2 separate regions of the Homo sapiens genome follow, and region 1 is linked to region 2. The links come from fine-mapping of genetic effects on gene expression. A gene starts in region 2. The other region holds a variant in brackets. All regions are shown on one strand. Distances are from middle to middle.

Region 1 (5,361 bases), 33 kb after region 2:
TGGCCATGGAGGGAAAGCCGCGGTGTAGAGGTGCGGAGCCGGCCAGACCCACGCCCCCAGCTGCTCAGCAAGCTCAAGCTGAGACTCGGGCCGGGGCTGACCGCTGGGGGCTGAGCTCCCTGATTCTCACAGTGGTCGCGGAGGCGGCATCCTGCCTCTGTCTCTCTTCTGCCACAGAATTCACCCCCGGAGCAGGGCTCCAAACCACCGCCCACCCCTGGCCTGGGGCCTCCAGCAGGCGCCCTAGCTACCTGGGACTCCTCCATCCATGACAGGACTGCCTGTCCTAATAAGACCCCTGCCTGGGTTTCTACCCCAGCAGCCCCTGACGGCCTCTGTCATGAAGGATGGAACTTCCCAGCCCTGCTAAAGGCTCAGCACCCGAAAGACCGCCTTCAGCTTTGGGCCCAGCCGCTCCCAGCCCCATAATGCAGGCCGGGAGAGGGTCACCCAGACGGAGGACGCCCCGCCTGCCTCAGGCCTCCTGGGTCCGTACGCTGGTGGTGACTTGGAAGAGGGCTTCTCTGGGGAGGGGCCCCAAGCCCCATGGAAGTGGTTTTGCTCAGGTCGGGGGCTGCATCCCCTCACCCTCCCCAGTCTCCCTCCCAGGAGCAGCAGCTGGCAGCCAGGTCCCGGGGCGGCACCAGGAGATGGTCACTGCCGATCCTGCCTGGCTGAGACCCCGGGCTCTGGGACCAGGCTGCCCCGCTCCCTGCATCCGCCCTCACCCCGAGCTTCAGAAACCTCAGTACAAGGGGGTGATCTGCAAAGGGACCTGGGCTTTTCCAACTCCCTCTCCTTGTGGCGGGTCCTAATTTCACGTTTTCTGGTCTTCAAAGTCCCAGCCTGGGAAGCCGAAGAGACCCACTTCTCTTTAAGGCCTTGGGCCTGGCCACTCGGCCGCCGGCCTCCCCAAGCACACCTCACACTCGGAGAAAGGGCCGAGCAGCCTGTGTGGGCGGGTAAACCGCGTTCCCACCAGCGCAGACACCACTTCCTACCTGCAGCGGAGGCCCAGTGCCAGCTGCTGCTTAGCTTCCCAGCGAGCCAGCCCCACCCAACCCCTCCTTGAAGACAAGAGGGGTCCAGGAAGAGCAGTGAGGGGGGGCCCAGAAACTGGGGTCCCTGTGGGGGAGACAGAGGACTGCAAAGGGAGTACAGGGCGTGTGGGGTAGCCCCCTTCTCACCCAGATGTGAGAGGATACAGGCCCTCCCTGGCACTCCCAGGAGAGACCGCCTTGACCCTCAGAGTCCTCTACCGTTCCTCCCACACCCTCAGCGGGGCAGGACCGAAACCTCAGATCCCCCAGGCGCCTGCCTTTCCCACACCTGGGGGTGGTGGCTGGGGACCGGGCTAGTCTGCACAGGCCCCCTGCTGCTCTCCCAGCTCCGTGGGCCCCAACCTCCCTGCTGAGGGCTGTCACTTGCCGGGCTAGGGGACCATGGGCCAGAGAGCAGGGGTCCACCCCAGAAGCCCCTGCACTCCTGCCATCTCCGGGACCAGCTCTGGGGCCCCAGCAAGGACATGCACCCCCTGGTCCTGGTCACCAAACTCCATGCGGGGGGCCTTGAGACAGCACAGTGGGGGGCCTTAAGACGGACGAAGTGGCCAGTCACATTGTCCCCATAGCTGCCAGGAAGGACATTGTGTGCACCCCAGGGCTGGCTTTCAAGCACGCTGGGACCCCTGCCTGGGCCCTCTCTCCACACCAACCCAGGGCTCCAAGGCCCCTGCCCCTTTCCCACCATCATGAGCCACCCCTGCCCCTGCCCTCAACACCCTGATGAGAAAGCCCGCGTCACCTTCTCCCTCCTCCCAGGGAGAGCCCTCAGCTCAGCCTGCGCTGCTGTGCCCTCCGGCCCTGCTCCCTGGTGTCTGGGCTGAACCCGACTGCCCACCCAGCCATCCAGGGCACTGTGGCCTGGGGTCCCCAGGGATGCACTTCAGTGGTCCCCCTCCTGCCCAGCTCACCCCTCCTGGCCCTTTCCCCACCTCGGCCCATCAGCCTGGCACCTCAGTGCCACCCGGACCTCCCCCATCAGCCTGGCACCTCAGTGCCACCCGGACCTCCTTTCTGGGTACATCTGGGTTTGTGGGGCCTGAGGCTTCTCCACGTCCGGGGGCAAGAGAGAGTCCCAGGGGGCAGCTTTCTTCACACACGCCCTGCACACCTCCCCCGAGGCCCATCTGGAACCCCTCCTCTCTGCTGAAATCTTCTGGGCCAGCCCCGGCCTGCCCTGACCCGGGTTGGGCCTGCCTCTGAGGCCTCTACTGCCCGCAGGCGGCTCCAGCATGTGGCCTCCCAGCTCGGTGGGCCATGGCATCCTGCAGGAGAAATGCCAGCTGCGCCGGGCTGGCCCCAGCCGAGAAGGACTGCCTGCCCTCTGGTGGCGGGACGGGGCGTGGGTGGGAGACCGCCTGCCAGCGCTTCCTGGCCTGGAAGGGAGTTGGGCTAACAGGTGGGGAAACTGAGGCCCA[G/A]AGGTAGCAGAGACTTTTGACAAGAGATGGAGCCCCCCTCCCCGCCAGGGCACCTCAAGGTGAATTCCCAGTCGGCTGGGCAGTCATGGACCAATGGGAAGGTCCCCCCAGGGCTGTCGCCCTCTCACAGAGAAATGTACATCCCACACGTTCTGCATGCTTTGGGGAGAGTCCAGGGTTAGGAAGCCCAGAGTATGGGATTTGTTTTTTTTTTGAGATGGAGTCTCGCTCTGTCGCCAGGCTGGACTGCAATGGCATGATCTCAGCTCACTGAAACCTCTGACTCCCTGGTTCAAGCGAGTCTCCTGCCTCAGCCTTCCGAGTAGCTGGGATTACAGGCACGCGCCACCACACCCAGCTACATTTTGTATTTTTAGTAGAGACAGGGTTTCACCACGTCGGCCAGGATGGTCTTGATCTGACCTCGTGGTCCGCCTGCCTCGGCCTCCCAAAGTGGGATTACAGGTGTGAGCCACCGTACCCGGCCCAGAGTATGGGACTTTAAGAGCCAGCCTGAGAGCTGGGGTTTGTTGGGAGCAGCAGGGCTCACACCCCAAAGTCAGCGGTGTGTGGAACTTCAGGGGACAGTGGGCAAGCAGCCCATCTTCTCAGCACACAGAGAGGTCCCGAAGCCAGTAAGGAAGAGAAGAATGCACGGTCCGGTCTCAAACAAGATAACAGCTTAGATACATGTGAAAATGCCCAACTGCACTCACTGTTACAGAAATGCAAAGTGCAATTTGCACCCATGAAATTGTAAGCTTCAAAAATCCGTAGTCCAGTATTGGCGACAGCTTGGGAACACAGACGGTCTCCTGCACCAGGTTTTGTTCACAGAATAGAAGAGGAATGCACACAACACAAGAAGAGAATAGCAACCTGGCCAGCGCAGGACTCAGCCTGTAACCCCAGCACTGTGGGAGGCCGAGGTTCAAGACCAGCCTGGCCAACATGGCGAAACCCCGTCTCTACTAAAAATACAAAAATTCACTGGGCGTGGTGGCAAGTGCCTGTAATCCCAGCTACTCAGGAGGCTGAGGCAAGGAGAATTGCTTGAACCCAGGAGGCAGAGGTTGCAGCGAGCTGAGATCGCACCACTGCACTCCAGCCTGTGTGGCAGAGTGAGACTCCGCCTCAAAAAAAAAAAAAGAAAAGAAAAGAAAAGAAAAGGAAAATAGCAACCCACCAGAAAAGTGGGAGGTGCCTGAGGAGATGCAGAGGCCGGGACTCAGGCGTGCCCCTCACCGTGTCGGGGACCTCGCAGCCTCAGAGCCTGGCCACCCATTGGTCCCTCGAAGGAGAAAGACCTGACCTTGGTCCCATAGTCCAGCCCCTTCCACCTCTTGAATTTTTACCATGGACCTCGGGCCTCTTCTGGGTTTGTTGGTTGGTTGGTTTTGTTTTACTGAGTTACTCCTGGAAGGCTGGCAGGAAGTTAGGCATTCACTTGGTTCTTTCCACAGCAATTGTGGGGACTTTATGTGCCCGGCCCAGGCTCAGTGTTGGAGATGGGGCCCAAATCCCTGCCCCGCTGCCCTCCCGCCGGCCTGCCCTGTGACCTCCAGCTCCCACGTGGCTTCCCAGATGCTCCTCAGCCAGCCCCACAGTCGCAGAAGGCCAAGGCCCCTTAAATCCCCCATTTTATAGAAACCTGTAGGTGCCCCCTAGAGCTTCTGCTGCTCTGAACCCACCCTGGTGCATGGCGTGTCCCTGCATCACGTGTGCCCACCTGCCTCCTCAGATGCAATTCTGACATCTTCAGACGCAATTCTGACATCTTCATGACCCCACATTCAACTCCCTGCAGGGCCCGAGGCCACCGTCCAGTGAGGGGCATGCCCTGGGTCCCGTCCTCTGGGACTTTACCAACATTCGGTCACTGTGGATGCCTGGAGCTCCAGGGCTTTTGCCAACAGAGTGGAGAGCTCCTCCTTCTGAACACGGTCTCCAGTCCCATCTCCCAGACCTCCGGCTTGTCACCCCAGGCCCTTCGGGAGTGAAAATCACGACCCTGCCCACTGGGCCCGTCTGCAAGGCTTAAGCCAGCGTTCTGCAGGTGGACAGTGGCTGTCCCATTTCCCGGAGCTCCCTGGGCCCCCTGCCGCCCCCCTGGAGCCCTGGTCTGGCTGTTGGCAGCCTCCCCTTCTCCTCTGCTGCCTTGGAAGGTGTGGGAGCCTCTGCGGGGTCCCGCCTCTCCCTCATGCCACACTCTCCCCTCTGTGCCCTTGCTCAGCCCCAAGTTCCCTGGCCACATCGCAGGTGGCAGGCGCTGACATTGCCTCTGCCAGCCCCAGAGCCCGGCCCCGGGCACCTCTACCACCTACAGGGTCCTCAACTGTAGCTCTGACCCTGGAGGACTGTGGAAGGCTGCTCTGGCTAGAGTGACCCGCCAGGTCCAGGGATATCCTGTGGGGACAGGGAGGAGCTTGGAGCTGGGCGAGGGGGCGCCGTCCTCAGGAAGGTTGCCCAGCCGCTCGCTGCAGCTCTGAGGTTTGGCAAAGGTTCCACTCTGCCGAGCTGGTGTTTGTGTGATCATTTCCTTGCAATGACGTGGGTTCCACTGCTCACAGTCCCCAGGGCATGTCATCCCTCCCAGCCCACAACTTCCGGGTAGACGGTGCCGGGGGTTTACTGAAGGAGACAATCGGGGTGTTGGATGGAAACCTGCCCCTCAGGGCAAGCATCTGGGGTGGGGACACAGCACACGCAGCCTCCAGCAAACACGAGGGGCCGGAAGGGGCTCAGGCCCAAGTGCGCCCTCACCAGACCCGCTCCCCACACGCACGCACACAAGCTTCCTGCACACACACGCTCCCGCACCACACGCCCGCCTCAGCCCTGCGTGACTGTCCCCCAGCCTCGCCCCTCCCGGCCGGCCGTTC
Region 2 (5,361 bases):
GGCTGAGGTAGGAGAATCGCTTGAACTAGGGAGGCGGAGGTTGCAGTGAGCCGAAATCGCACCACTGCACTCCAGCCTGGGCGACAGAGCAAGACTCTGTCTCCAAAAAAAAGAAAAGCAAATGCTCCAGGACCTTGGGGATTTTAAGAATATGCTGCCGAATAATTTGGAGAGTTAAACAGAAAATCATAACTGAAATCTACAAATTCCTCGAACAGAAAGGAAATGAAACTCCACATGTCACCTGGCACAGCAGAGGCTGTGATTCAAGGACAGGCTGAGGGTGAATGAATCCACACATCCGCTCTAAGATGCCTGATCCCAGCATTGTATAGAAATGGAAAGATACGGCCGGGTGCAGTGGCTCACGCCTGTAATCCAGCACTTTGGGAGGCCAAGATGGGCGGATCACAAGGTCAGGAGATCCAGACCATCCTGGCTAACACGGTGAAACCCCGTCTCTACTAAAAATACAGAAAAATTAGCTGGGCGTGGTGGCGGGCGCCTGTAGTCCCAGCTACTCAGGAGGCTGAGGCAGGAGAATGGTGTGAACCCAGGAGGCAGAGCTTGCAGTGAGCCGAGATTGCGCCACTGCACTCCAGCCTGGGCGACAGAGCGAGACTCCGTCTCAAAACAAAAAAAAGAAATGGAAAGATACTGCCCAGATGTGGTGGCTCACACCTGTAACCCCAGCACTTTGGGAGGCCAAGGCAGGCGGACCACCTGAGGTCAGGAGTTCGAGACCAGCTTGGCCAACATGATGAAATCCTATTTCTACTAAAACTACAAAAATTAGCTGGGCGTGGTGATACATGCCTGCAATCCCAACTACTCAGAAGGCTGAGGTGGGAGAATCAGTTGAACCTGGGAGGCAGAGGTTGCAGTGATCGAGACTGCAGCACTGCACTCCAGCCTGGGCAACAGAGACTCCGTCTCAAAAAAAAGAAAGAAATAAACGTGAGTGGATGGCTGTGCTGTTTGTATGGACCAGGAAAACTTCTAGAAGGATAGGTAAGGCAGTGTCCATAACTCAACCTGGGAATTGAAGCCAGGGTGGGGAGGAAAAGGCAACAGTTGGTTTCATTCTATTTTGTTTCTGTGCCTGTATTACTTCCAAAATAAACAAACTAGTTTCACTTTCACAACATGAAATGCTTTATCAGGATATGCGTTTTCCTCCAACCCCCAGTGGTGTCCCCTCACGGGACAAAAGCCTGCCAGCCTTCAGCTGCCCTCCAGAGCCTCACGGTGCAGGTGCTCCTGCCTAAGCAGCCGGACCCCCCTGCCCCCAGGAACTGCAGCCCCCTCTGAGTTGAGAGATCTAGTAGGCAGGAAAAAAGGAGAAGGAAGCTGTGGCTGCTGGGGGATGTGGCCTCGGGGACAAGCCCCTCTGTGCAGAGGACGTGGGCAGGTGGGATTTCAGCCCCCTCTCCAGCATCTCACTGGCAGCCAGGGTGGCTGGGGTTTCCCCGAGGGCGGGGGCTGGGGAATCTGACCTCTGTGCCCCGGCCATGGTGCCGTCTTGCTGGGAGGATGACAGGCTGTGTTTCACCTGCCAATTTGGCGACAGTTTCTCTTTTGGAACATCCCGGGGGACTTTGTTCTGTGCCACCCACCTCTGGACCCTGGGTCTGATGGCTGAGCTGCAGGCTCCAAGGTTCAGCGTCCAGTCTGGCCCTGCTCCGTCCATTCCCCACATTTGAGGGTTTCCCGGAGTTTGGTTCTGCTTCTTCCTCTCTTCCATGAAACTGGGGGCATTGCCCACGCCCCAGTGTCCCCCATCATCTGCCCGGTGGGGACTTGCCCACTCACGTGACTGCAGCCTGTGGGGCCTCCTCCTAGTGTCCCGAAGATACCTGGTCATCCTTGACCCCGCCCGCACCTGCCCGCGTGCCCCCTCGGGTTCTAGTGGAGGACGTGGCCCGCCTGCCACCCCGCCAGGCGCCGGGTCCTCCAGGCCTCCTCGAGCCACCTCCTGCCCACCTGGGATGTCTGTGGGTTCCCGGCCCGGATGCGTCTTGGAGCCTTCTACCCGCACCCCAATCTCCTGCCCCAACAGGCTGGGCCCCTCCTCCCGGGCTGGCCAGGCCAGCACCTCCGCAGGGGCCGCAGGACGCCTGAAGGCCCAGGCCGCAGGTGCAGGACCCTCTGCGGGGGAGCTGGGGGACATCACTCCTCTGCTCTGCGCGCTTTTATGAAAGGGCCTCTGACCCTCCGGGGGTCCAGCTCACTCTGCCCGCGCACTCCCAGGCATCTGGGGGCCGCCCCCCGCCCTCCCTCCCCGCGGCCCACTCGGCCCGCCCAGCTCGCCCCGTGCACAGACTCGAGGCCTCCAGGAGCGGAGCCAAACAGCCCCGCGGGGAACGCGCGCCGCACGCGAGCTGGACCCGCCCAGGCACGAACTCTCCTGGAAAAATGCTCCCGGCGGCTTTCCTGCTTCCTTTAGCGTGAACCGCGGGTGCGGTGCCTCCCGTGAAAATAATAAATTCACCGTCACGCTTGTTGTGAACGCGGGTGGTTCCCGAAACTTGGAGGCTTCCCGTAAACCCAGCTCCTTCCTCATCTGGGAGGTGGGTCCCGCGCGGGTCCGCCGCCTCCTCCCTGGCCCCTCCCTCTCGTGTCTTTCATTTTCCTGGGGCTCCGGGGCGCGGAGAAGCTGCATCCCAGAGGAGCGCGTCCAGGAGCGGACCCGGTGAGGCGCGGAGAGGGGCGGGCGGGGGAACCAGAGGGGCGGGCTCGGTGCTGGGGACTCGGTGCTGGGGACTCGGTGCTGGGGACTCGGTGCTGAGGGCCCGGTGCTGGGGACTCGGTGCTGGGGGCTCGGTGTTAGGGCCTCTTGGTGCACTGGGGTTGCCGGTCCGCGCAGGGATGGGGACTCTGGGGCTGCGGCGCCTCTGCCTCTGGGACCGTCACCCCCCGCTGGCCCTGAGCGTGCGTCGCAGGCCAGGCGGGCGGGGTCGCAGCGGGCGTACCCGAGTATGGGCGGGAACGAGCTGCCGGCCGGTGTGGGGACCCGCGTCCCTGCCCTGTGCGCCAGGCTCGACTCTTGAAGGGACAGAGGCGGCGTCTCGGACCCGGGGCTCCCCTAAGTCCGATGGGTCGGAGCCCCCTCCTCCCTTCCCGGTCCTCGGCCTCACCCGGGGTTCCCTGCGCCGTCGCTGCGACCAAGCTGGGAGCAAAACGCACTCGCTCATATGCGTGCACACAAGCTGGTGGACACACGCACATGAGCACACGCAGGCACGCGTGGACTGTTGCACACTCCACAGCCACAGCCTCGTGTGCACTCACAGCAAACTCATGAAACAGGAACCGTGAGGCTTCCCTCACCCGGCAGGCCCTCAGCTGCCCGTTCTCACGCGGGTTTTGCTGACTCCGCAGTAATCACCACATTCAGTTCCTTGCCCACTACTGGTGAATCACCTGCAGCTTGAGAAGCACGTTTTCTGCCGGTGGTCAGCAGAGGATCCCCGGCTTCTAGGAGGCCCAGGGCGACCGGCTGCAGGAGCCCGCGTAGGAGGCCTGTCTCCAGCAGGGCGGGGGTGGTGGCAGGGCCTCTCCACGGGGCTGCTGCTGAGCCCAGAGCGGGAGGACAGGAGGCCACCAGCAGAGGGGACAGGTGAACAGGTGCTGAGCAGGAAGGGTTAGCCCGGTCTAGCCCCAGGCCTGGGGGGCTTTGCTGCTCACCTGGGGTCCCCTCTGGGCCTGGCTCAGCAGAGACCAGGGCAGAGCCGTCCACACCGTGGGCCTGGGTGGGGTCCATGGCCTCTGCAGGCTGCAGCTGTCTTCTGAGAGGTGTTGGTGTGCTCATTCTCGGTAGAGACGTGGGGTCACCTGTGTTCCCTGAGCCCCTGCAGCAGCTGGGAAAGCAGTGTCAGCCACCCCTCAGGTGCTGTGGGGGTACAGAGTCCACTGACCACACAGGAGGACCCCAATGAACCCAGCCCGAGGGGGCCGGAGCTTCCACACACCCAGCACCCATGGGAGCCGGGACAGGCAGGCGCCCGGGGCACCAGGGAGCGGGAACAGGCATGCGCAGGCGTGCTGGGCGGTGCGTGAACTTTCCTAGGCGTGTCACTGGCATGGCTCCAAGCCTGCGCATCATCGCTTGTCAGGGAGCACTCAGACCCTGCCGTGTCTGGTGCCGGCGCCTCAGATACCGACCCCTGTGTTCGTGGTTTGAGAGAAATCTGATTGCCGCCTCCATCTTTTCCCGCTCTAGAAGTTTGTTTTTTGTTTTGTTTGGTTTGAGACGGAGTTTCGCTCTTGTTGCCCAGGCTGGAATGTAGTGGCCAGATCTTGGCTCACCACAACCTCCACCTCCCTGGTTCAAGCGATTCTCCTGCCTCAGCCTCCCAAGTAACTGGGATTACAGGCGTGCACCACCACGCCCGGCTAATTTTTTTGTATTTTTAGTAGAGACGGGGTTTCACCACGTTGTTCAGACTGGTCTCAAACTCCCGACCTCAGGTGATCCACCTGCCTCAGCCTCCCAAAGTGCTGGGATTGCAGGCATGCGCCACCGCGCCCGGCCCACTCTAGAAGTTTTGAGGCTCCGTGCGCCTCGTCTCCCTGTACCTGGTCTCCCTGTGCCAGGTCTCCCTGTGCCACACACGGAGCTGCCCGGCCAGTCACCGCCCACCTGGCCACTTTCCCTGGGGCCGCGCCCTGCCGCCTGCCCTCTCTCTGATTTTTAGCCACTGCGTGGCATTCAACTCAAGCCCACGCCTCTGGTCAGGAGGATGGCAGGAGAGGACTCAGGCAGACGGGCAGAGTGGCAGAGCTGCCAACAAAAACGCAGGATACCCAGTAACATCTGAGTTTGAGATCGTTAATCGTGTTTTAATATAAGTGTGTCCCGAGTGTCCCACGGGACAAGCTTTCACCAGGACATCATTGGTTGTTTATCTGAGACTCAGATGTGACCAGATGTGCCTGGTGACCTGAGAGGGGCCTGTGTTGCCAGGGTGCGTTTTCTTCTGATAAACGGAGCAAATTCCCACAGCAACCCAAAGTCGCTGACACCTGCTGCCCAGACAGAGCTGGGGCCACGCATGGTCCGCAGCCTGAAGCCTCGGGGTAGAGCCAGACCTGCCGCTCTCCTCCCGGTCTCCCCCCAGCTCCCTACCCCCTGAGCCCTTCAAAGTCATTCTCAAGCCAAAGACAGGGGTCTTCCAGGCCCAGGGCTCCCCTCCACGGCTGACTCATTCCACACCTTTCCCGCCACTTGCCGGGTGTGGACCGACAGGAAGGGCACCGCCACCTGCTCCTAGTACCCTCCAGCCCATCCCTTGCCGCCCTTCACCCCTGGCTGGACAAGGGTCAGGGTCGCCAACATTGGAGGGCACTCAGTGGGGAGCT

What was found. PIP is the estimated chance that this variant, and not a neighbour inherited with it, causes the effect.
Region 1: its variant is fine-mapped to the expression of SECTM1 in whole blood (INTERVAL, PIP 0.97).

The regions. Positions count from the first base shown.
Region 1 is chr17:82,297,995-82,303,355 of GRCh38, reverse strand. No RefSeq gene overlaps it. Among named protein-coding and RNA genes, the nearest start is that of LINC01970, 7.9 kb to the right of the region's middle. RefSeq lists enhancers at 1,059-1,178, 1,359-1,408, 2,139-2,198, 2,209-2,258, 2,269-2,348 and 2 more. The variant G/A (reference allele first, on the strand shown) is at 2,480.
Region 2 is chr17:82,331,031-82,336,391 of GRCh38, reverse strand. SECTM1 (secreted and transmembrane 1) reads left to right here and starts at 2,626. Exons shown (of 5, transcript NM_003004.3): 1 at 2,626-2,692. RefSeq lists enhancers at 1,203-1,272, 3,320-4,122 and a silencer at 3,999-4,283.